6 separate regions of the Homo sapiens genome follow, and all the other regions are linked to region 3. The links come from fine-mapping of genetic effects on gene expression. A gene starts in region 3. Each other region holds a variant in brackets. All regions are shown on one strand. Distances are from middle to middle.

The links.
Region 1: its variant is fine-mapped to the expression of NINJ2 in whole blood (TOPMed, PIP 0.91).
Region 2: its variant is fine-mapped to the expression of NINJ2 in NK cells (Gilchrist 2021, PIP 0.95). The same link has a PIP of 0.9 or more in monocytes and monocytes after interferon gamma.
Region 4: its variant is fine-mapped to the expression of NINJ2 in whole blood (TOPMed, PIP above 0.99).
Region 5: its variant is fine-mapped to the expression of NINJ2 in whole blood (INTERVAL, PIP above 0.99).
Region 6: its variant is fine-mapped to the expression of NINJ2 in whole blood (TOPMed, PIP above 0.99).

What each region holds. Positions count from the first base shown.
Region 1 is chr12:619,828-623,914 of GRCh38, reverse strand. The region is part of intron 1 of NINJ2 (ninjurin 2); the gene reads left to right. Among named protein-coding and RNA genes, the nearest start is that of NINJ2-AS1, 9.0 kb to the left of the region's middle. RefSeq lists enhancers at 1-201, 202-946. The variant C/T (reference allele first, on the strand shown) is at 1,678.
Region 2 is chr12:609,547-613,633 of GRCh38, reverse strand. The region is part of intron 1 of NINJ2 (ninjurin 2); the gene reads left to right. Among named protein-coding and RNA genes, the nearest start is that of NINJ2-AS1, 19 kb to the left of the region's middle. RefSeq lists enhancers at 3,202-3,703, 3,957-4,087. The variant A/GAGAGAGAA (reference allele first, on the strand shown) is at 2,371.
Region 3 is chr12:661,477-665,563 of GRCh38, reverse strand. It overlaps NINJ2 (ninjurin 2), which reads left to right and starts at 2,119. Exons shown (of 4, transcript NM_016533.6): 1 at 2,119-2,236. The coding sequence starts at 2,204.
Region 4 is chr12:586,182-590,268 of GRCh38, reverse strand. The region is part of intron 1 of NINJ2 (ninjurin 2); the gene reads left to right. LOC105369595 (a long non-coding RNA gene) reads left to right here and starts at 3,783. Exons shown (of 2, transcript NR_134624.1): 1 at 3,783-4,021. It also overlaps the pseudogene RNU7-103P. The variant G/A (reference allele first, on the strand shown) is at 2,340.
Region 5 is chr12:627,032-631,111 of GRCh38, reverse strand. All of the region lies in intron 1 of NINJ2 (ninjurin 2), which reads left to right. It overlaps NINJ2-AS1 (NINJ2 antisense RNA 1), which reads right to left and starts at 221. Exons shown (of 5, transcript NR_122124.1): 1 at 127-221. RefSeq lists silencers at 196-295, 356-435. The variant G/C (reference allele first, on the strand shown) is at 1,828.
Region 6 is chr12:634,178-638,264 of GRCh38, reverse strand. The region is part of intron 1 of NINJ2 (ninjurin 2); the gene reads left to right. The region is part of intron 3 of NINJ2-AS1 (NINJ2 antisense RNA 1); the gene reads right to left. Among named protein-coding and RNA genes, the nearest start is that of NINJ2-AS1, 5.3 kb to the right of the region's middle. The variant A/G (reference allele first, on the strand shown) is at 1,557.

The DNA of each region.
Region 1 (4,087 bases), 42 kb after region 3:
ACAGGCGTGTGCACAACCACACCTAGCTACTTTTAAAATTTTTTGTAGAGACAGGGTCTCACTGTGTTGCCCAGTCTGGTCTTGAACTCCTGGGCTCAAGCGATCCTTCTGCCTCAGCCTCCCAGAGTACTGGGATTGCAGGCATGAGCCACCATGCCCAGCCTCACTCTTTGAAATATTGCCCAACATCCTGGTATTTGAATTCACCTCCCTTGCCTGGTGCAAATTGTGGCACCTCAGCCAAACCTAGCAGCCTGGTCTGTCACTAATAAACCCCAGATCCCTTCCTAGCCTGTCGCCTCTCACTCATCCCAGGGTACATGCTGGTTGCAAACTAAGCCCAAGAGTGGATTTGGACGCAAGTTGGTAAATAACAACTAGGCTTTTAGATTCGGAGTTTGGATGATGAGAAAAGTGAAGTTTTGAGTGGGTGGGAAGAAACCTTCCCTGATTTTGGCTGGTACATTCAGAGACTCACAGCACTAACAGACAGGGCAGGCTGCCGGGGCAGGAACCCTGGGGAAAGGTGTGTCACACAGGGCCTGAGGTGAAGGGAGAGCTGCTCGGGTAGCAGTGGGGGAGGGGGACAGAGGCTGGGAGATCCTTCCTAGAGATGGGAGCAGCTTTCCACTTCAAGGACCACAGGTCTGCAGGCCCACAGCTCCTAGGACAGAAACTTACAAAACTGTCACTGTCAGGAGGGAGTGCTGGCTCTCAGATGGACTCTGTTCCTGAGCCCCTATCTTGCTTCCATTCACCTTGCACCAGCTGCCCAGAGAAGCTAGCCTTGAGCTGATGTCTACCTTTGCAATATTCCACCTGAGTGCATGCTGTCTTTTGCTGATCTGGTCTTCCAAAATCTAAGAAGCCTACAACAGCATTTTGGGATATGGGACATTTAGAGGTCTCATTACAAGTTCCATGGGACTTTTAGAAAAAGCTTAGATCTATGGACAACTAGGAGAAGGCAAATTTAAACTTGTTTGAAGCAACCCACACAAGAGCAGGTTTTCCTAACCTGGGCGGGGGTGTCCATAAATTCCCAAGGGGGTCCATGTGAACTCAGGAGGCGATGAACCTGCTGAAATTATGTGAAAAGTTATTCATGAAAAAAATTAAAATTAAAAAAAAAAGAAAAGCTATCCGTGTGTGACTGCATTTAGGGTGAGGTAGGGGGTCCATCACCTTTATCAGATTCTGAAAGGGTCTGTGACCCGAAAAGTTAAACAAAACAAAGCAACACATTTTTCTAGAGGATGAAGGTGGGAACTGGGTGTCAGGGGAATTTGGAGGACATTCTAACTCCTCCCACTTCCCATATGCTGCAAACGTGTGCAGTAGGAAACAATGACAAATACTAGGAAGTGGCAAGCATTTCTTAAAAAGGGCCTTTAAACAAATAGAGTCCTGAGCATTTCCCAGAGTTTCTTATAAAAGTTGTCTTCCTCTCTTTAGGTAGCCCCTTTCTTTCTTTCTTTCCTTTTTTTTTTTTTTTTTTTTTTTTTGAGACGGAGTCTCACTCTGTCACCCAGGCTGGAGTGCAGTGGCGTGATCTCAGCTCACAGCAAGCTCCGCTTCCCGGGTTCATGCCATTCTCCTGCTTCAGCCTCCTGAGTAGCTGGGACTACAGGCACCCACCACCGCACCCGGCTAATTTTTTGTATTTTTTAGTAGAGA[C/T]GGGGTTTCACCGTGGTCTCGATCTCCTGACCTCATGATCCGCCCGCCTCGGCCTCCCAGAGTGCTGGGATTACAGGCATGAGCCACTGCGCCTGGCCTTTTTTTTTTTTTTTTTCCCGACACAGTCTTGCTCTGTCACCCAGGATGGAGTACAGTGGCGTGATCTCAGCTCACTGCAGCCTCCGCCTCCCAGGTTCAAGCAGTTCTCTACCTCAGCCTCCTGAGCAGCTGGGATTACAGGCACCTGCCACCATGCCTGGCTAATTTTAGTAGAGACAGTGTTTCGCCATCTTGGCCAGGCTGGTCACGAACTCCTGACCTTGTGATCCACCCACCTCGGCCTCCCAAAGTGCTGGGATTACAGGTGTGAGCCACAGTGCGTGGCCACACTATTCTTTCTCTCTCTTTTTTTTTTTTTTTCTGAGACGGAGTCTCACTCTGTCACCAGGCTGGAGTGCAGTGGCGCAATCTTGGCTCACTGCAACCTCTGCCTCCCGGGTTCAAGTGATTCTCCTGCCTCAGTCTCCTGAGTAGCTGGGACTACAGGCACACGCCACTATGCCCAGCTAATTTTTGTATTTTTAGTAGAGATGGGGTTTCACCATGTTGGCCAGGATGGTCTTGATCTCTTGATCTCCCATCTCCCGTCTCGGCCTCCCAAAGTGCTGGGATTACAGTTGTGAACCACTGTGCCCAGGCTCTCTCTCTTTTCTTTTCTGTTTTCTTTTTTTCTTTTCTTTTTCTTTTCTTTCTTTCTTTTTTTTTCTTTTTCTTTCTTTTCTTTTTGACAGGGTCTTACCCTGTCACCTAGGGTGGAGTGCAGTGGTGCAATCACAGCTCACTACAGCCTCAAACTCTCAGGATCAAGCAATTCTCCCATTTCAGCCTCCCAAGTAGCTGGGACTACAAGTGTGTGCCATCATGCCTGGCTAATTTTTTTTTTAAATTTTTTTATAGAGATGGCATCTCTCTATGTTGCCCAGGCTGGTCTTGAACTTCTGGGCTCAAGCAATCCTCCTGCCTCAGCCTCCTAAAGTGCTGGGATTACAGGTGTGAATCACCATGCCTGGTTGTACACTACTCTTTCTTACTTGTCTCTCCTTCTAGTTTGTCTTCACTGCCACAGGGGAACCTCTTCTAGTAGCTGCTATTTCTTCAAGAAGGACGTGAAGCTAGAGACTCAGGAGTGCTTGTTTGTTAGGTTGGAATTAGGAGCCACATCCAGGAGAGGCTGAGTAAGTCCTTCATCTCATCCAGTGGTAGCCAAACTTTTCAAGCCTGAGTACCTCTTTAAGACTTCAAAACCTTAGCTGGGAGCAGTGGTTCATGCCTGTAATCCCAGCACTCTGGGAGGCCGAGGTGGGTGGATCACCTGAGGTCAGGAGTTTAAGACCAGCCTGGCCAACATGGCAAAACCCCGTCTCTACTAAAAATACAAAAATTAGCCAGGCATTGTGGCGCACACCTGTAATCCCAGCTACTCCGGAGGCTGAGGCAGGAGAATTACTCCAACCCAGGAGGCAGAGGTTGCAGTGAGCCAAGATTGCGCCACTGCACTCCAGCCTGGGTGACAGAGTAAGACTCTGTCTCAAAAACAAACAAACAAACAAACAAACAAACTTCAAAACCACTTTTGGATCCTTCCAAGTAATCATAATTGTACTTTTAGTATCTACAAATGAAGAACTGCATGCTGAGAAAAAGCTACCATGCATTCAGTAATACTTTTTACATGTATCTTAAAAATTATAGCAGCACCTCTGTGCATTTGACAAACAGCACAGGCTTTATGTGTGAGACGCATCATCTATTTGTTCTCTAGGCAATGTTTGCTGTGCATCTGGATTCAGGGACCCCATACTGTCTGAGACCCTCTCCCCTTCCCGCAAAGCGGGGATCGCTGGTCTAATTTAAGCTGTTTATTTTATAGATGAAGAAACTGTGGTCTAGGAAAACAAAGCTCCTAGTGAAGTAGTTTGGGGCCCATTTCCATCCAGGTCTCTTGACTATGTCAAGAGATGCCCATGGCATGATGCCCACGAGCTATAGAATGGACACTCAGCTATGACATCCAGTTTCCCACTCCCATACTGCCTGTGCTCTCCCGTCACTAGGAGGTGTCCAAAGGGATGAAAGGACGCTTTAGGGCTTGCCTGATCTGGGAAACAGTCAGACAAGAGAGTGAACCATGAAACACCAGGCCCTGGCAACAAACTGGAGCACAAAGCCATGACACGGCTGCCATGGGCTGAGGATGCCAAGCTGGCAGCTGAGCCCTCCCTCACTTAGTCCTCACTATAACCCTGACCATTAAGGAATATTATCTTCACTTTATAGATGAGGAAACTGAAGCTTAGAGAGGTCAATGACAATGTCACACAGTTACTAAAAGCTGCAGAGATAGGACTCA
Region 2 (4,087 bases), 52 kb after region 3:
GCGCCCGGCCTATTTATTTATTTTTGAGACAGAGTCTCGTTCTGTCTCCTAGTCTGGAGTGTAATGTCGCAATCTTGGCTCACTGCAACCTCTGCCTCCTAAGTTCAAGCAATTCTCCTGCCTCAGCCTCCCAAGTAGCTGGGATTACAGGTGCCTGCCACTATGCCCAGCTAATTTTTTGTACTTTTAGTAGAGATGGGGTTTCACCATATTGGCTAGGCTAGTCTTGAACTCCTGACCTCAGGTGATCCACCTGCCTCAGCCTACAAAAGTGCTGGGATTATAGGCATGAGCCACCGCCCCCAGCCCATTTATTATTTAAAATGCGTGATGAGATTTAGAATTATAGAGAAAGACCCAGAAAAAGGAGAAAAGGATACATTTTCATTTTTCTTAGGAGCCGCAGATATGCTTGATTTGACATAGCTGTCACAGGGATTTTGCTCATTAGCATGGGGAAACTATTCCTAGTGTGTCAGAGCACCCCCAGATTGGGCCAGCCAGGGATGGCAGGGGAGGAGGAGTGAACCTGGGAGTGCTGGGCTGGGGTCCAGTTGAAACTCTGCCACTGAATTGCACGCTTTGGACATGTCACTAAGCCTTTCTGGTCACACCTTGCCTGATGCCTTTTGTCCCTTTCACCCTGATTCTGTGATTCCATGAGGCCTGTTTAGCATCCCTTGGAAGACCCATGGATTGATTCACCAATCAGCCGATCAGGCGATCAATCTGTCTATCTACCTAGTTCACCTCAGGACCTTCTATGATTGCAGTGACGGAGAGGACCCGGTGTGCCAAGGGTGTGCTGCAGACACATGGGTCCTCTGGTTTTGAGGATACACAGATCTTTACAAGGATCAGAAGAGACTCAGGCACTTTGGGTTACGGGTGACAGAAAGGAACCTAAAGCATCTGAGACCAAAAGAGGGAGTTTATCATAAAGTGTCAGGATCTCTCCCAAGAACCACACAACAGGGAGATCAGGGAGGTCATCCAAGTGCCTGGGCCAGAACCTCGAGCCCTACCAACCCAGACAGCTCCTTCCCTCTGCTTTTCTGGGGCTGCCTGGCCTCTCATTTTTGCTTCTCCTGGTGCATCTTGGTTCATGTAGTCCGTGGAGGTTGAATAGCAACAGTGAATCTCAGTTCCAGATTAATGGAAGGGAAAATCTGATTGGCCCTGCTTGGACAGGACTCCCGCCCCTACTCTACCCAGCCTGAGCCAGATATTCCTGGACCGGATATAATGTCACCAGGCTACCTCCTAGGTGTGTGGAATTGGGGGTTTCTCAGAGAACGGGAGGTTGCGACTGCCCCGACACCCCACAGAGTGTTGTGTTAGGATGCAGGTTTCACTGACGCAAGACGCCAAATAATAACAGCTTAGACCAAAATGGAAGTTTATTTCTCGCCTGTGTGTAATAGTCTGCGTGCAGACAGTCCAGGGATAATACAGTAGCTCCACGGTGTTTGGGACCCAAGCTCCTTCTAGCTTGTTGCTCTGCTCCTGGGATATGTACCTTATACACATGATTGAAGATGCTCACCACAATCTCCACATTCCAGCCTGGGAAAAAGGGAGGGAGGGGATAGAGAAGACAGGTGCCTTCCTTTTAGGGCCACAATTCTTCTTGCTAAGTTCTCATTAGCCAGACCTTGGTCATACAGCCCTGCTGCTGCAAGACGGATTGGGAAATGCTGACTTTAGCTAAGTGGTCATGCATCCCGTCAAATATTCTACTATCCTGCAAGAAGGTCAAATAGATATTGGGGGGCAACCTCCTACAACAAGTAATAATGGCCTCGCTTCCTGGAAACTCATGGAAGTTTTTCTCTCTTCTGACTTCTAGCAGGTTATTTATTGCCAAGAAAGAGGTATGGTGGGTATGGGAAGAATATCTACAGGGAAATGCTTCCAAAGGTGTAACCAGGAGGAGTTTAGACTAAATGATTTCTAAAATCCTTTCTTACTTTTATGCCACTTCAAGAAAGCCCTGGGAGCCGGGCACAGTGGCTCATGCCTATAATCCCAACTTTGGGAGGCTGAGGCAGGCAGATCACTTGAGGTCAGGAGTTCGAGACCAGCCTGGCCAACATGGTGAAACCCTGTCTCTACTAAAAATACAAAAATTAGCTGGGTGTGGTGGTGTGCCCTTGCAATCTGAGCTATGCAGGAGGCTGAAGCAGGAGAATTGCGTAAACCCAGGAGGTGGTGGTTGTAATGAGCCAAGATCGTGCCACTGCACTCCAGCCTGGGTGACAGAGCAAGACAAAAAGAAAGAAGGAAGAAAGAAAGAAGAAAAGAAAGAAAGAGAGAGAGAGAGAAAGAAAGGAAGGAAGGAAGAGAAAGAAAGAGAGAGAGAAAGAAAGA[A/GAGAGAGAA]AGAAAGAGAGAGAGAGAAAGAAAGAAAGAAAGAAAAAGAAAGAAAGAAAGAGGGAAAGAAAAAGAAAGAAAAGGAGGAAAGAAAAGAAGGAAAGAAAGAAAGGCAGGCAGGCCTGGGGTTGATGTGCCTCTTCCTCTATCGTAACTTAGGGCACAGAAAAGGAAGTTCTTGGGACAGATTGCAGAACTGAATTTGGTAACACAGAGTTCTTTAAAGAATAGATGTCCAGCCTAGGTGCCGTGGCTTATGCCTGTAATCCCAGCATTTTGGGAGGTTGAGGCAAGTGGATCACCTGAGGTCAGGAGTTTGAGACCAGCCTGGCCAACATGGTGAAACCCCGTCTCTACTAAAAAGACAAAAAATTAGCCAGGTATGGTGGTGGGTGCCTGTAATCCCAGCTACTTGGGAGGCTGAGGCAGGAGAATCACTGGAACCTGGAGGGCAGAGGTTGCAGTGAGCCGAGATTGCACCATTGCACTCCAGCCTGGGCAACAAGAGCGAAACTCCGTCTCAAAAAAAAAAAAAAAAAAAAAGAATAGATTTCCAGTGCTGTGGTTGTCCTTGTCATAGCCCAGTTCTGCTAAACAAGGTTGAGTTGAAGTTGTCTCCTTCAGACTCTAGAGCCACATATTAAGTCCCTGCCTGGTAACCCCCTCCTGTGGCTGGGCTGAACAGAGTCGCTCAGAGCAGCTAACCCACCAGTGAAGCTGTGGTGGGCATCTGCTGCATGCAGGGCCCTGGGCTGGCCGCTGTGGGGACCCACGGGGGCAGAAGGCTGTGCTCGCTGACCCTTTTCCTCTCAGCCACCAGGCTGACCTCATTTTCCGTTGAGACTTCCTGTTCTCCAGTAATTGCTTGGTGGGGCAAGAGGCTTCAGTTCCAAGTCAGCAAATGGGATCTGAGTCATGATGTATATGGTAAGTGTGCCTCTGGCCACGGGATCTTCACCAGCTCAGCACTGGGTGCTGGGCACTGGGGACTGGGCAGGTGAAGAGGGCTGCCAGAGGGGCTGTTTCACTCACGCAAAAGCATTGATTCTGTGTCTGCTGGGTGTCTGGCAATGTGTGTGTGCATGTGCACTTGTCAGGATGGGGAAGGCAGGAGGATGGAAATGACTCTGCAAAGTTAGAGCTCAAAATGGACTTTGTAGCTTTTGGCCCCAGTGATGCCAGATGAATTAGGCTAGTAGGACAGCTGGGAGTGGAAAGAGGCCCAGACTCAGAATCGACTTGGATCATGCTCTAGCTACAACAAAAATGTGTGACCTTCCATGGTCAAACATTATTTCTCTCCTTCGTCTTTTTTTTTTTTTTTTTTTAAGACAGGGTCTTGCCACTCTGTCGCCCAGGCTGGAGTGCAGTGGTGCCATCATGACTCACTGCAGCCTAGACCTCCTAGGCTCAAACAATCCTCCTGCCTGAGCCTCCTCAGTAGCTGGGACAAGTCCCCTATTGCTGCTGTTGTTGTTTTCCCTATTTTTTTTTTTTTTTTTGAGGCAGAGTCTCACTCTGTTGCCCAGGCTGGAGTGCAGTGGTGCAATCTCAGCTCACTGCAAGCTCCGCCTCCCGGGTTCACGCCATTCTCCTGCCTCACCCTCCTGAGTAGCTGGGACTACAGGCGCCCGCCACCACGCCCGGCTAATTTTTTTTGTATTTTTAGTAGAGACGGGGTTTCACCATGTTAACCAGGATGGTCTCGATCTCCTGACCTCGTGAT
Region 3 (4,087 bases):
ATATTTTTGACAACCAGGTTTTCTTGAGAGAGAGGATTTTCTAAATTTCTTCATTTCCCTTTGAATTGTTGTCATAGAGTTCTACATCAGATACATCCCAGCCAAACAGGAAAAAAAAAAAAAAAAAGAAGACAAAGCGTACATTTTCTGATTCTAGATTAAGGGGACTATGGGAAGAAGTAATCTCAGCTACTCGGGAGGCTGAGGCAGGAGAATCGTTTGAACCCAGGAGGCAGAAGTTGCAGTGAGCCGAGATGGCGCCACTGCACTCCAGCTTGTGCAACAGAGCGAGACTCCATCTCAAAAAAAAAAAAGTGCTTAGAATAGTGCTTGATACATAGTGGTATTATTATGAGCGGTGGGGTGATAGATATTACTGGTAGACTTTTTAAGGAGTGCTGAGAAGAGTGGGTTCCAGGTCTCATTTCCATTCAGGAATGTGGAAGGAGATCACCTCGCAGACTGCCCTGTGTCAGTTGGAGCAGCCACATCAGAGCAAACTCTGCTGGAAGTGGGGCTGAGCTTGCCTTTCCCCTGCCCTTCGTCAGCAGCCCTCAGTCCCCATGTGCCTAAGGGGGCTCAGGAGCACTGGTCAAGCATCTCACAGGAAAATTTCGAGGGGCTTATCTTAGAGATGTGGGCCACTGAGCGGATACAGTGGGATGGGGGCACATACAAGTCAAAGCCAGGTCTCAGGATGGTCCACATTGCCACGAGCCAAGGTAGCGCAGACAGCAAGGGAGAACACTGGATCTCAAAGGCAGAAAGAGAATCACCCATGAGTGACTCTGGCCTAATATCAGACATCAGCCACCAAGGCCAGCAGAAGACCCAGGAGCAGGACCTGTGTCTCCTCAGCAGTCAGCAATTCGGGCGGGCCCGTGGGCCCAGCAGCTCCAGAACAGAAAGGAGCCGAGATGGAGAGGCCACAGGATAGATGCAAGAACCGTCCCCACCCCGCCCTCCTGTGCACCTAGGTGCCATCTTCTGCAAATCCGAAAGACTGAGCATTGTGTCTAAAGTGGACTGTTTACCATTTAAATGATTAAATCCAACTATGCTTCATAGATTAGACTAAAATATGGCCCCCATCCAATCATCCAACCCTCCCTCGCACCACTGTCCAGAGGGATGGGAACTTATAAAGGCATTTCATAGAACTGAAGAAATCGCCTTTTTTTTTTTTTACATTTGAATGTGGTGAGGGTAAACGTGTTGACTCTGCCTGTCTTCCTCCTGCCCGCACCTCTTCAAGCCCTGAATTGGATTACAGGTTAACACCCTGCCATGCACGTCTACAGACATACCCACACCCACACCTGCACAAGCTTGTGTCTAAACCTTGCTTCAGGAACAAGCCAGAAGAGTTTTGGGCTCTAAGGTAAACAGGAGAGGAAAAAAAAAACTTTCTAAAAAAAGACTCCCTCCTGGTAATTTTATTTTAAAAGTAGGGAGAATACCACTGTTTGCATAAACAAGCTTCGAAGGTACAACTACTCCCTGCTCCCTCTATGGCTAATCAAGGGAGGAGTTGAAGGAATCAAACAATCCGTCAGTAAAAACGTATTGTTCACTCACTTTGCAGAACAAAGCCTATGCTTTGGAGCCTATTAGGTAAACTACAATTTTTTTAAAAACTTTTAGGGATATAGGGAACAAAGCAAAGAACAACGGAAATCCCTCTGCCTCAGTATTGAGACTGTGCTGGAGGTCACTCCACCCGTGGCGACTGGGGACTGGACCCAGCGGTGAAGTCAGATAGCGTTGTCCTCAGGCTGTTTTTCAATTTGCTTGATAAACATGCAGGATTTCTTTGCCAGTCATAAAGCTACTAGCTCAAAGCAGGCTGGGTGACCTCAGATGGCTCCGCTGGGACTGGAAGGTCACTGGAGCCACTGGTGAAAATGATGCTGTCACTACCAACTCAAAAGGTCACCTATCAGTGTGCCATGTGCCACCTCCTGGAGCACACACATGTGCACACACATACACTCACACGTGTGTGCAGGTGCACACCTCCCCCAGAGGCTGCAGCCAAGACGGGCATCCCACATCAGAGGGATGAATGGCAGGTCTGTCCCGCCAGCTGTGTGCTCTCTCCCACCCGAAGAAAGCAGCAGAGACTCAGACGGCGGAGCCTGGAGGAGCCCACGCAGTCTGTTCCCGGCACCCGGTGCGTGTGAAGGGACTTGAGGGCAGCGAGATGGAATCAGCAAGAGAAAACATCGACCTTCAAGTAAGTTCTCTCTGGAAGAGAGCAGAGGGGAGACCGGGAGTAGAGGTGAAGCTGGAAGAACAGAGGATTGATACTTTAGTCACTTGATATTCTCCCTCCCCGTTCTCTTCTTACTCACTCCCTTCTCCAAATGCTCCCTAGGCTTTGTCTCTTTATTTTCTCTTTCTCTCTGTTTCCCTATCTGGTTCTTCACTTGTTTTGAAATATCTGAAAAACAGATTGGTTAACTCCCTTTTGGCCTCTGCTTCCTCTTGTCAGTCAAAGAGCTAATTAGATCCGTATTACCAGAAAATGATTTCACATTCTGAGCAGTGCTTTCCCCAAACCCCAGGACAGTAGAGACTTCTCTTAGAGCTGCCGGGGAGACAGGAAATATATGAGTTTTGAGGCTAGGAAGAGAGGCAGCTGGCCAACTTTGCATTTTACAGGTTGGAAAAAACTTGAGCCGTTTCTCGGCTGTCTTCACAAAGCTCTACTGTGTAGGACAGAAAGCGTCTCATTTGGACAGTGCAAGGAAAGGAAATCAGTCTAATCTCCTAGGAAGAGGCAGAGATGTGTGTCCCTCTGTAGCTGGGATGGGCTTGGAAGGCATCAGAGGTTCCAGTCCACTGCTGGAGGGGAAAGGGTGGGATGTTACGGTGAGAGGAGAGCCAGATTGCTGGGAGCTGCACTCTGTGACTCCTTGCCAATGGATAGAATAGAACGAACCCTTCTATGACCACTGCTGAGGCTGTGTAACATTGCAGAGAATCAAACAAAGTGTGGAAAAGGACTTTTGAGATCAAGAATTTCTGATCCCTGAACCTGGTCCTCGAACAAAATCTTAAGCAGCCACCCAATATACACTTCGGATTAAAGAAGAGCTGTTTTGTTGAAGCAGAGTATGTGCACGCGTCTCTCTCTCTCTCTCTCTCTCTCGTTCTCTGTGTGTGTTTTGGGCAGGGTGGCGTGAGTCTGGCAGAGTCTCTGTCCTTGGCCCCTCCGCCCTTGAGACACCACCAGGGAACTGTAGGACTGCTTGGTGTGCTGTGTCAAAACCATTCACCTAGTACAACTGCATACCCAGTGCTGTTTTCCTGGATTGGCAGCCAGCCCCGAGAGCGGTCCCACCGCAAGGCTTGCTTGTCCCTCTGTCTGGAACCTTCTTTCCCTGGCTTATCTCCTGGCTGGCCCTTCCTAGTACATTCAGGTCTCAGCTCAAATGTTACTTCCCCCAGGAGCCCTCCCCTGACCAACCTCTTCACAGGATGCCTCCTCCCCAATTTGTCTTTATCATTTGTTTAATTTCTTTCATAGCACTGCTCACCACCTAAAGTTACACTGCTTATTTATTTAGTATGTATTGCCTGTCACTCTCACTAGGACACAAGATCTCTGAGGGCAGGGCCTCTCCTGTTTTATTCACTGCTGCAGCCCGAGTGCATGAGGCAACTCTTGGTACACGGTCATTGCTTTAGAAAACATTTGTTAAATGAATGAGTTGAGGAAGCCATGAGTTGGAGAGGCTCTGAGATAGGAATAAGGTCACCTAATTGGCCCAAGACCTCCAGTCCATGTCTTCTGTCCCTAGTATGTGTTTTCTTCTTACTTCTAGTTCTTGCCTCTATAAGATCCTTGGTTGTTAAGGAAATTGTGTTGCTGCTTATTTTCATTCTCAGAAGAGCAAGTTTCTTATGTGCTGATGGGTTGAACGATCCAGAGTTACAGGCTAAGGACTCTGCATCTGAACCAGAGGTTCAGAAGGAAAGAGGTGGTGGGAGGAAGGAGAAGGAAATGACTGGCTAGGCTGGATGAATGTCTCTCTCTAGCAGGTAACTGAGGTGTTAGTGTACCTTTCTCTTCATTTGTCAT
Region 4 (4,087 bases), 75 kb after region 3:
CTCCGCTCCAGCCCATCCTTCGAGCCGCTTCCATCATGGTCCTGCTAAAATGCTGCTACAGCACATTGGGAGGCTGAGGCAGGAGGACCACTTGTTTGGGACCAGGATTCCAGACCAGCCTGTGCAATATAGCAAGACACCGTCTCTACAGAAAATAACGAAAATAAAAAATAAGACGCTGCTCTAAGGATGCCACTGGCTGCGGATAACCTTCCTACTGCTCCCTGCTGCCCTCAGGACAAAGCCTAAGTGCCTCATCAGCCCCTCCCTGATCCGCTGCCCCACACCGCTCCACCTCTGCCTTCCACCTGTACCCTAGGACCCCTTGGGTCCTGACAGGGAGACCCCGCCCTCTCTGAGACGGCTGCCACAGCAGCCCATCTGCCTCACCCCACGGAGGAAAACTGAGTCCAGGAGACAATCCCCCCCTAAATTTACCAACTGTTTCCCCCCTTCCAGAAGTTTCTTGAGAGCAGGAGCCATATGGATTCGTCTCTGCATGCCCAGCCTGAGACATCAGTGCCTAGGACTCAGGAGGCATACCCAGCACATGCTTGTAGAAGAAAGAAAGAAACAGGGAAGGTGTTTTTTGCTATTTATCGCATATTTAATTTCATCTTTATTATATTTTTCCTGATTGTAACAGGATGATGTCTTAGGTGTGAAAAATTAGAAGTGGAAGTGTTAGAGCTCTTCTAGAATTTGTCTAGCAGGTTCTCTGGTTTTTACTGAAACCAAACTCCCATGAGAAAACAACCTACAATTGGGAAAATACATAACTTAGAAAGAAAGGGAAAGTCTTTAGTGTGATAGAAATTCCTCCCATATCTGTTTCCTGTGCTTATTCTAATGCATTGAAATATAAAGTAGATCCTCTGAATACTTTGTTTCATTTTTACCAATATAGAATCATATCATGTTCTTACTGACTTGCTCCCCACTAAATACATTTTAGATATCTTCTGTATCTAATCATAGGGATCTACCTCATTCTTTTTGTTTTGTTTCATTTTGTCCATTGTTTTTTACTGATTGAACAAGAACACCTCTCTCTTTTCAAAGACACATGTAGTATTTAATTGTGTGGTTGTAGGCCAGCTTATTTAGCCCACACACCCTTGATTACAATTTGGCTCATTCCCAGTTTTTGACATTATCAATAATGATGCATGGAATAGCTTGTCTTTTTGAGCTTTGGGGAGCATTTTCTGTGGGAGACTTATTCTGTGGGAGACTCCTAGAAGTGGACTTACTAGGTAAGACTATTTTAAATTTTAATAGATAATTGTCAGATTGTCCTCCAAAAAAAAATGATTGTAACAATTCTGGTACGTTTGGTAGTAATTTACATTTCTACCAAGGACGTGAAAGTGCTTGCTTAGCCATGTCTTCACCAACACTGAGTATTATCAGTCTCTTAAGTCTTCGCCAATCATGTAGGCTATCATATCTATTACACAGATTTGTGATGTTTCTTCAGGGGCTTGCTTGTTTGTACTCAGTTTTTCTGTTGGCTCATTTTTAAGGCCTCCACAGACTTCAGGATAATCAGTCCTTTGTGCTCTGTGCAGCAGTGTTCCCCCCGTTTCTCTTTGTCTCCTGATTTTGTGTGGTGTGTGGTGGTCGAGGAAATGGCTGGAGCACACACTCTGAAGGCAGGCTACTGGGTTTTGTCTGTAACTTACTGGCTGAATGACCATAGTTTAGTTACTTAACCTCAGAGTCCCTTAGATAAGGACAGTACTTATCCCAGGGATTGTTATGAGAATGACACGACTTCAGATATATAAAGTGTTCTGTGCAGGGTTTGACATGAAATGAGCGCTATAAGTGTATATGCTATTATTATTTTGCATTCAAATAATTTTAATTTTATGCAGTCAAATGTATTAATCCTTTATGGCTTCCGGATTTGATGTCATAGTTATAAAGGTTTTCCTCATTCTAAGATTAGAAAGAGATTCACAAAGGGGACTATTTGAAGGAGTCTGCGGGGAGTCCATTTGCAAGATGTCTCCTCCTCCCTTCCCTCCCTTCTGTCCCTTCCGTCCCCTCCGTCCCTTCCGTCCCCTCCGTCCCTTCCGTCCCTTCCGTCCCTTCCGTCCCTTCCCTTCCTTCCGCCATTTTGCTGTCTTGTAAATTGATTTGGCTTTTCACATAGTGGGAATTTTTTTCAAGGGGAAACCTATCTGTGTTTACATAGTGGAAGGATGATACACTGGTCTGGGGACTATGTTGGCTGTCGTGTCATGCCTAAAGTGTAGGCCTGTGTAGGTCGTCCCCTCCCTTCATGGATAAAACAACTACTAGTTATCAGTAAGTGCCAGCCTCATACTACG[G/A]CTCCTACCCTGAAGGAGTTCACCGTCCAGTGAGAGAACGGATAGTGATCAGGTGAGAGGTGTCACCAAGGCCCTGTGGTGGAAATAACCAGCTTAATGGAAGGAAGAGCTTCCTGGGTGGACGGCGAGGAAGGGCCCAGAGGGCATTTCAAACACGGGGGATGGGGTGTTCAATCTGCTCTACAGATCCTGGTGACCTGCCTGTGAGGCGCAGGGTCCCTGGCCACCCCCACCCCCCACCTGCACAGAGGCCCCGGGGCAGGGAAGAATGGCTCAGCGCTGGGCAGGGTGAGATGGAGAGTGGTCAGAGGCCAGACCACAAGCATCGGGCCAAGACTAGGAAAGCCCAGCTCCCCTCCCAGCTGTAGAACTTCACTGGTCAGAGAGCCTGAGGAGCCCTAAGAAAGGGACTTCAGTCCTCTGGGGCTCCCTTTGCGTGTCCTTACAATGCAGCCTCAGCTTCTGTCCTTAGGCAGCTGTGCAAATTCTGTAAGATGGTGCATGTGCAGACATTCTGTCCTGCACAATAAAAGTGGACACCTTTGGGGCACTTCCTGCCGCCGCTTGACCGGGAGTTGCTCCCGCCATGGGGGCTGTGCTGTGGGTTCAGCCTGTCTGCATTGCCAGGGGTTCCTGGGCCTGCTTCCTGTGGAGGGGCAGCTTCACCCTGGATGCAGACCTCCCCGTTTGCAGCCCGTCCTGGTGAGCTGACTCTTGCCTCCTGGTCCCCTAGTCTTTTTGTTGACCCAGATCAGGACTCTAGTCCAATACTATTGAACCCTGGCAGAGATGCTCCACAGGAAGGGCTGAGCCTCCTCCTCCCACAGGTGTTTAGTAGCAAGAAAAGAAACTGTGCTTGGGGAGCCTACGCTTTCCCTTTGGCCTTGTTTATCCCAGATATTGGTATGAACCCCTCTTGGCACTGGCAGGGGTTCTACCATCTGCTCACACTAAGGGTTAAAGGCCTGCAGAGGGGACAGTGAGCTCTTCCATCCAAACTTCAACTCCATTCCACAATACCAGAGCCCAGTGAATGGCGTCCCCCGTGGGCAACAGTGATTCTCATGGGAGCAGGGCCCCGAAGGTGAAGGTCACTGCAGAGGGATCCCCACACCTGGATCCCTACGATCCAGTCAGAGGGCACAGAAAGGCACCTGGCTGTTGGGGAAAGGACCCTGGTGGGAGTCACAGAAGCCTTTGTCCCAGTTTCAGCACTGCCCAGTTCTGTTGCCTTGGAGAGGTCCCTTGCCCCGATGGTTCTGTGTCCTGATTTGTAAAACGGGAAGGTTGGACATAGGGCCGAAACGCATGCCCTGTGGGCGGATGGGAGCTTATGCACTTTGAGGTTGGATGCCTTTGAGTGGGCGTGCGCTGCCCAGGGAGAAGCAGCTCCCACCCCTTCCTCCAGTGAAGGCGTTGGCCTTTGTATTTTGCGCTGTTCCCTGGTCCTGGCTTTTGAGAAAAGAGCCAGCAGCCTCTGGTCTTGTTGACACCATCATCTGAGAGTGGCAGGCCACCAGAGGGAAGGGCTAAGGACAGAGCCAGATCTGGCTGGGCCATCTCACCTTCTGGAGGCCGAACTTGACCCGGGATGGAAATAATGAAGCAGCCACTGGCTTTCCCAAGGCCTGTGATCCTCCTGGTCACCAGAAATCCCAAGTTCTTATCTCCTGCTCTTCCAGGTAGGCTGGGCCAGCTTCCCAGGATCTGCTCAGGAGGGCCCTGTGCTGAGAAGGGTCCTGCATTTG
Region 5 (4,080 bases), 34 kb after region 3:
ATGAGCTGGCGAGTCCCGGCCCGAGGCTGTGACAGGGGCCATTACTGAGCCCACTCCCCACCAACCTTTCTGCGGTTTAACTGACTCTCCTCCTTCCCCTCCAGATCCCAAGGGCTTGACTCCTACCTCCTCTAAGGCATTTTGAAAAGTTTGCAAATGCACCCTTGATCCTAGCACGTACTTAAGAAGCGGCTCCCCCCTAGAACGTCAGGCTTGAAGCTGACCCCTTCTTCCTCCTCCCGCGCCATTTGGGTCTGTGCGCAGGGCCGGAAGCCTGCTGGGGAGGGGCACGAGGCCGGGCTGGGGCCTCTCCGGAGGGAGCCCGCCGCCCCGCCCAGGGCGCACGCACCCAGCCTCTGAGGGAGGAAGCTGAATGGGGCCAGAGGCTGGCCCTCTTTGGGGATTTGCATTATACAGGCTGTATTTAGAAGCAGCGGCGGGGAGCGGTGGCTCACGCCTGTGATCCCAGCATTTTGGGGGGCCGAGGCGGGCAGATCACCTGAGGCCAGGAGTTCGAGACCAGCCTGTCAACATGGTGAAACTCCGTCTGTGCTAAAAATACAAAAAAAATTAGCCAGGCGTGGTGGCCGGAGCCTGCAGTCCCAGCTACTCGGGAGGCTGAGGCAGGAGAATCGCTTGAACCCGGGAGATGGAGCTTGCAGTGAGCCGAGATCACACCACTGCACTCCAGCCTGGGCAACTCAGCGAGACTCCGTCTCAAAAAACAAAACAAAACAAAACAAAACAAAAAACCAAGAAAAAGAGAATAAAAAAAAATAGAAGCAGCTTTCTTGCTGATAGAAAGCAATGACCCTCTCTGCTATAATTACAACTGAAGAGTCACTTTCTTTCAAAAACTCTATTTTCAGATGTTTACCACTTTCTTTAAAAAGGAAAAAAAATTTGCCTCAAAGGCAGGCAGTCCCCAGGGCATTTCTGGTCTCCTGGGGAAGGAACCTAAGAGCGGTTTGGTAAAATTCCATTTTGCTATCTTGGCGTTACCTAAGGGCAAGAACTGAGGTGGGGCTTTGGTGACAGCAGGGGCTGAAGAGTGCTCTTTTTCATCATCCAGGGTGTCCAATTGTTTTGTTTCCCTGGGCCACATTGGAAGAATTGTCTTGCCCCACACATAAAATACAGCAACACTAACAATGGCTGATACACTTTTAAAAAATCGCAAAGAAACTTCATATATATATATATATATATATATATTTTTTTTTTTTTTTTGAGTTTTGCTCTTGTCGCCGAGGCTGGAGTGCAACGGCACGATCTCGGCTCACCACAACCTCTGCCTCCCAGGTTCAAGTGATTCTCCTGCCTCAGTCTCCTGAGTAGCTGGGATTACAGGCATGCGCCACCAGGCCTGGTTAATTTTGCATTTTTAGTAGAGACGAGGTTTCTCCATGTTGGTCAGGCTGGTCTCAAACTCCTGACCTCAGGTGATCCACCTGCCTCGGCCTCCCAAAGTGCTGGGATTACAGGCGTGAGCCACCATGCCCAACCAAGAACTCATAATGTTTTAAGACAATTTACGAATTTGTTTTGGGCCGCGTTCAAAGCCGTCCTGGGCTGCACGGGGCCCACAGGCTGTGGGTTGGACAAGCTTGCTGGACTGTCATGAAGTTTTGAGTAGGTTAATTGCGTGGAGAGACCTGGAAGACAGGATCCTGGGTTGTACTGTACTCTCCCCGCCATTGGACCTGTGCTCCCTCCACCCAGGTGGCATCGCAGTGGCCAATGGAGAACAGAGCCAGACTGCCTCGGTGCAAATCCCAGGCTCCTAGTCCTGTGGACCACTTACTCCTTCGGTGAACTTGGGAAGCT[G/C]TTCATCCTTCCGGCTTCAGTTTTCCCACATGTAAAATGAAGATAATAATGGCACCTACCTCAGAGGATCATTGTGAGGATTAAATGAATTACCACAATAAGAGGGTATCATTGCCAGAAAGGGGTCCCGATCCAGACCCCAAGAGAGGGTTTTTCGGATCTTGTACAAGAACTCTGGGCTAGTCCATGAAGTAAAGTGAAAGCGAGTTTGCTAGACAAGTAAAGAAACACGAGAATGGCTACTCTATAGGCAAAGCAACCCTGAGGGCTGCTGGTTGGCTATTTTTATGGTTATTTCTTGATCATATGCTAAACAAGGGGTGGGTTATTCATGAGCTTTTTGGGAAGGAGATGGAGATTTTCCCCCTCCCCCAGTTGAGGACTCCTCCTTCTTTTAGACCATATAGGATAATTTCCAGGTGTTGCCATGGCATTTGTAAACTGCCATGGTGCTGGTGGGAGTGTCTCTTAGCATGCTAATGTATAATTGGCATATACTGAGCAGTGAGGACAACCAGTGGTCACTTTCATTGCCATCTTGGTTTTGGTGGGTTTTGGCAGGCTTCCTTACTGCATCCTGCTTTATCAGCAGGGCCTTTGTGACCTGTGTCTTGTGCTGACCTCCTATCTCATCCTGTGACTAAGAATGCCTAACCTCCTGGGAATGCCACCTAGCAGGTCTCAGCCTCATTTTACCAGCCCCTATTCAAGATGGAGTCATTCTGGTTCGAATGCCTCTGCCATAGACACGTATTATATATGCATTACCATGCTTATGTTTTTTGCTTTCCCTGTCTGTAAAATGAGGAAATGCTATTAACTGTTATGTTGGTCACTCTGTACCAGAAAAGCCAGGAAGAGTGTCCACTGTGTGCCAGACCCTTGTAGGTGACGCTGTGAGGAGACGCAGAAGAACGGAAAGACCTGGCTCCTTCCTATGTACTCTGAGATCTCTATGAGGAGGCTTCCCCCTTCCCCTCTAGGAAGACTCCTCATAGAGATCTCAGAGTACATACGAAGGGGAAACATCCACACCCAGTTTTCCCTGGTGGAAAGGTGTGACACAGAGGCCTGCCAGAGGCTCATGGCCCCTTCTCCACCCAGAGCAGCATCTCAGCTCAACCTGGGGATCCAGTAAAGCGGTGCAGGGATCCTGCAGGCTCTGGCAAACTCAGCCTTGACCTTTGGATCCAGCTCTCTGTCCCCATGGCCAGTCTTTTCACTCCCAGGCCTTCTGTCTGGCACAGGGTGTGAAAGAGGAGCCGGGGGCAGGGCGGGGAGGATGCGGCAGGGACAGGGACAGGACAGGAAGGACTTGGCCTAGCTGATTGAGACTTTTTTTTTCTTTTTGAGACGGAGTCTCGCTCTATCGCTCAGGCTGGAGTGCAGTGGCCCAATTTCAGCTCACTGCAACCTCCACTTCCCGGGTTCTCCTGCCTCAGGCACGCAAGTAGCTGGGATTACAGGCATGCACCACTGTGCCCAGGGATTACAGGCATGCGCCACTGTGCCCAGCTCCAGTTGAGATTTTGGCAGGGGTCTCTTGAGCAGCTGATGGGCTCCTGTCACTGCGCCCAAAGTCTGTCCCAGGCGAGTCTGGTTCCACTTAAGCCCAGGTCTGGGCACAGAGGTGCCACCCTTAATGTGTGTGCAGTATGCTGCAGCTGTACCCACGAAGTCTGCCCCTGCCTCTCATGAACACCCAACCCATTCGAGGCTCCAATAATTAGAATTTTCCTTGCTTCACTTTATCCATCTAAATCCTATCGAACTTGTCAAGGGCTACGTCAGTCTCACCTCCTCCATGAAGCCTTCTCTGATTGCCCAGCTGACATCAGTCTTACTGTCCTAAGTTTCCTAGTTCTCTATTTCATTCATTTAGAAATTAGAAAGTAGAAATGTACTTAATTATATTCTCAAAAAATATTTGAGCACCTGTTTGATTGCAAGGCAGGGAGGGTGGCTGTTGGGGCATCCATGAAAATACAGGACAGAATCTTCTAACAAGAAGCTTCAATTCTAAAAGGATGATAAAAATTCTAAAGGCATGGCCTAGAAAATTCCTTATTGCCATATATTGCTTTTCAGGTTGGATGCTATGATTTAATTCAAAAATAATAGTTAACAGTTATTAGGTGCTTGCTATGGGCCATTACTGTATTTAGCACTTTACACAAATTATTCTATTGAATTTTTTTTTGAGATGGGGTCTGGCTCTGTCACCCAGGCCGGTGTTCAGTGGTACAATCATAG
Region 6 (4,087 bases), 27 kb after region 3:
TCCAGCCTCCCTGAAAAATTACTCAACACAAGAAGGACAAGTCTACACTCCCTTAACAAGCTACAACACAGGAGCACACAGGTGTCTCTGCAGGAGGTGGAATGCAGCAGGCCTAGGTGCTCTCCTGCAACTGGCTTAGCATGTGGGCAGCACCTTCCTCCTAAAGCATAGGGGTGCAGGGGAGAGTTCCCACTCCCACCTTCTGGTAGAGGCCTTTGTTGTTTTCCAGTGTTGTTTTCCCTGAAGCACAAATGGTGCTGGTCCTTCAAGGTACAGTGACTCTGCTGAAGGAGCTGGAATGAGAACTCCCTTTTTTTGAGGTCCTTAATCCTTTGGCCCTGATTCCTTGGGAAGAACTCACAGGGTTGTGAGAACAGTTGCCCCATAGGGCCGAGGTGGGGACATTCTGTGCCTAGGTATTCATAAGCCAAGGCTGTATTTCTTTTACCCCACCCGTAAGCACTAATCACTAACCTAAACCAGCAACACCTGGTTGCCACAGGGAATTGGGTTGTGTCAAAGCCCACACTTAGCATTCCTTCTGCAAGGCCCTACCCAATGGCATTTGGGGTACATTAATTGGGGTAAAGGTTTTTCTTTTTCTTTTTCTTTTTTTTTTTTTTTGAGATGGAGTCTCACTCTGTCGCCTAGGCTGGAGTGCAGTGGTACAATCTTGGCTCACTGCAACCTCTGCCTCTAGGGTTCAAGCGATTCTCCTGCCTCAGCCTCCCGAGTAGCTGGGATTTCAGGTGCCTGCCACCATGCCCAGCTAATTTTTGTATTTTTAGTAGAGACGGGGGTTTCACCGTGTTGGCCAGGCTGGTTGTGAACTCCTGACCTCGTGATCTGCCTGCCTCGGCCTCCCAAAGTGCTGGGATTACAACCTTGAGCCACCATGCCCAGCCTTCTTTTTTTTGAGATGAAGTCTCGCTCTGTCGCCCAGGCTGGAGTGCAGTGGCACAATCTTGGCTCACTGCAACCCCCACCTCCCAGATTCAAGCAATTCTCCTGCCTCAGCCTCCTGAGCAGCTAGGATTACAGGAGTGCACCACCACGCCTGGCTAATTTTTGTATTTTTAGTAGAGACGGGGTTTTACCATGTTGGCCAGGCTGGTCTTGAACTCCTGACCTTGTGATCTGCCAGCCTGGGCCTCCCAAAGTGCTGGGATTACAGGTGTGAGCCACTGTGCCTGGCCAGAATTTCCTTCCTTTCTAGCCTGAAAAATATTCCATTGTATGAATATATCGCATTTGGTTATCCATTCATCTGCTGATGGACACTGGCTTGTTTCTTTTCGCCGTTGTGAACATGCTGCCATTAACATTGGTGTATAGGTATCTGAGTCCTTTCTTTCAGTTTTTTGGGGTACACACCTAGGAATGAAATTGCTAAGTCATATGGTAATTCTCTAACTTTTTGAGGAACTGCCAAGCTGTTTTCCACAGTGGCTGCTGGCTGCATCATTTACGTTCTCACCAGTCATGCATGAGAATTTCAGTTTCTCTGTATCCTTACCAAAACTTGCTTTTTTTTCTTTCTTCTTTCATTTTTTTCA[A/G]ATAGTCATCCTAACAGGTAAGAAGTTGTATCTCATTTTGTTTTGATTTGTATTTGTCTAATGACTGGTGACATTGAGCCTTTTTTCATGAAGCTTGTTGGCCATTTGTGTGTCTTCTTTGGAGAAATGTCTACCCTAGTTCCTTCTCCTTTTTTGAATTGAGTTGTTTGGTTTTCTCGCTGTTAAGTTGTAGGAGTTCTTTATCTATTCTGGATATTAATTCCTTAACAGAAATATGGTTTACAAATATTTTCTCCCATTCTGTAGGTTGTCTTTTCACTCTTTTATTTTTTAATTTTTATTTATTTATCTATTTATTTATTTATTTATTTGAGATGGAGTTTTGCTCTTGTTGCCCAGGCTGGAGTGCAATGGCATGATCTCAGCTCACCACAACCTCTGCCTCCCAGGTTCAAGTGATTCTTCTGCCTCAGCCTCCCGAGTAGCTTGGATTACAGGCACGTGCCACCACGCCTGGCTAATTTTGTGTTTTTAGTAGAGACGGGGTTTCTCCATGTTGGTCAGGCTGGCCTCGAACTCCCGACCTAAGGTAATCCACCCGCCTCGGCCTCCCAAAGTGCTAGGATTACAGGCGTAAGCCACCACGCCTGGCCTATTTATTTATTTATTTTTATACAGAGTCTCGCTCTGTTGCCCGGGCTGGCGTGCAGTGGCACACTCTTGGCTCACTGCAACCTCTGCGTCCCAGGCTCAAGCGATTCTCCTGCCTCAGCCTCCTGAGTAGCTGGGATTACAGGCACCTGCCACCATGCTCGGCTAATTTTTTTGTGTTTTTATTAGAGACAGCGTTTTACCATGTTGGCCAGGCTGGTCTCGAACTCCTGACCTCAGATGATCTGCCCGCCTCGGCCTCCCGAAGTGCTGGGATTACAGGCGTGAACCGCCGCGCCCGGCCCCTTTTCACTCTTTTAATAGTGTCCTTTGGTGCGCAAGTTCTGTATTTTGATGAAATCTAATTTATCTGTTTTTTTCTTTTGTTGCCTGCAATTTTGCTGTCATATTCTAGAAATCATTGTGAAGTCCAATGTCATGAAGATTTTTCCCCGTGTTTTCTTGTAAGAGTTTTACAGTGTTAACTCTCAAGTTTAGGTCTTTGGTTCATTTTGAGTTAGTTTCTGTATATGGCATAAGGTAAGGGTCCAGTTTCATTCTTTTGTATGTGGGACTATCCAGTTTTTCCAGCACCATTTACTGAAAAGATTATCCTTTCCCCATTGAGTGGTCTTGGAAGCCTTGCTGAAAATCAGTTTACCATATAGGCAAGGGTTTATTTTGGGGCTCTATTCTATTCCACTGGTCTATATGTCTGCTCTATTGCATTTAAAGAAGTATACAGGGGCCAGGCCTGGTGGCTCATGCCTGTAATCCTAGCACTTTGGGAGGCCGAGGCAGGCAGATCACCTGAGGTCAGGAGTTCAAGACCAGCCTGGCCAACATGGCGAAACCCTGTTTCTACTAAAAATACAAAATTTAGGATGTGGTGGCACGTGCCAGTAATCCCAGCTACTCAGGAGGCTGAGGCAGGAGGATCACTTGAACCGGGGAGGCGGAGGTTGCAGTGAGCCAAGATCATGCCATTGCACTCCAGCCTAGGCAACAAGAGCAAAACTCCGTCTCAAAAAAAAAAAAAAAAAGTATATGGGGACTGGGTGTAGTGATTGACACCTGTAATCCCAGCACTTTGGCAGGCCGATGGGGAAGGATTAGCCTGAGACCAAGAATTCTAGACTGGCCTGGGCAACATGACCAGCTCCTGTCTCTATTTTTTAAAAAAGAAGTGTATGGTTTCTTCCAACCTCTTGTACTTATACCATTCCCTCAAAGAGAAAGAGAATTAAGAGGAAATGTCTTAAACACAAAGGAATTTAATGTTATGGTGCCCTGGGTCTGAATGCTCTGAAGAGGGCAACATTCTGGAGGTGCCAATTTTCAGATGAGCATTTAAAATGTCAGCGTTGGGCAAACATTTTATTTTGTCTTGAACTCATCCCCCCTTAATATCTTGGGTACGACCATTCTCTACATTTTCTCTCTGTGCTACTAAACTTAGAGGATGCAAGTCAGGATTGGGAGGAGACTGATTTTGTGTGTGTTTGGCCTTTACTGCAGAAGAAAAAGAACTGCAACTAGGCCGGGCGCGGTGGCCCATGCCTGTAATCCCAGCACTTTAGGAGGCCGAAGCAGGCGGATCACGAGGTCAGAAGTTCAAGACCATTCTGGCCAACATGGTGAAATTCCGTCTCTACTAAAAATACAAAAAATTAGCCGGCTGTGGTGGTGGGCGCCAGTAATCCCAGCTACTAGGGGGGCTGAGGCAGGAGAATCGTGTGAACCTGGGAGGCGGAGGTTGCAGTGAGCCGAGATCGTGCCATTGTACTCCAGCCCGGGAGACAGTGCAAAAAAAAAAAAAAAAAAAAAAAAAGAACTGCAACTAATCAACATTTATTTAGTGAGCACAACTTATGTGAGGCACTATAACTTACATAAGTTGTGCTGAACTCATGGTGGCT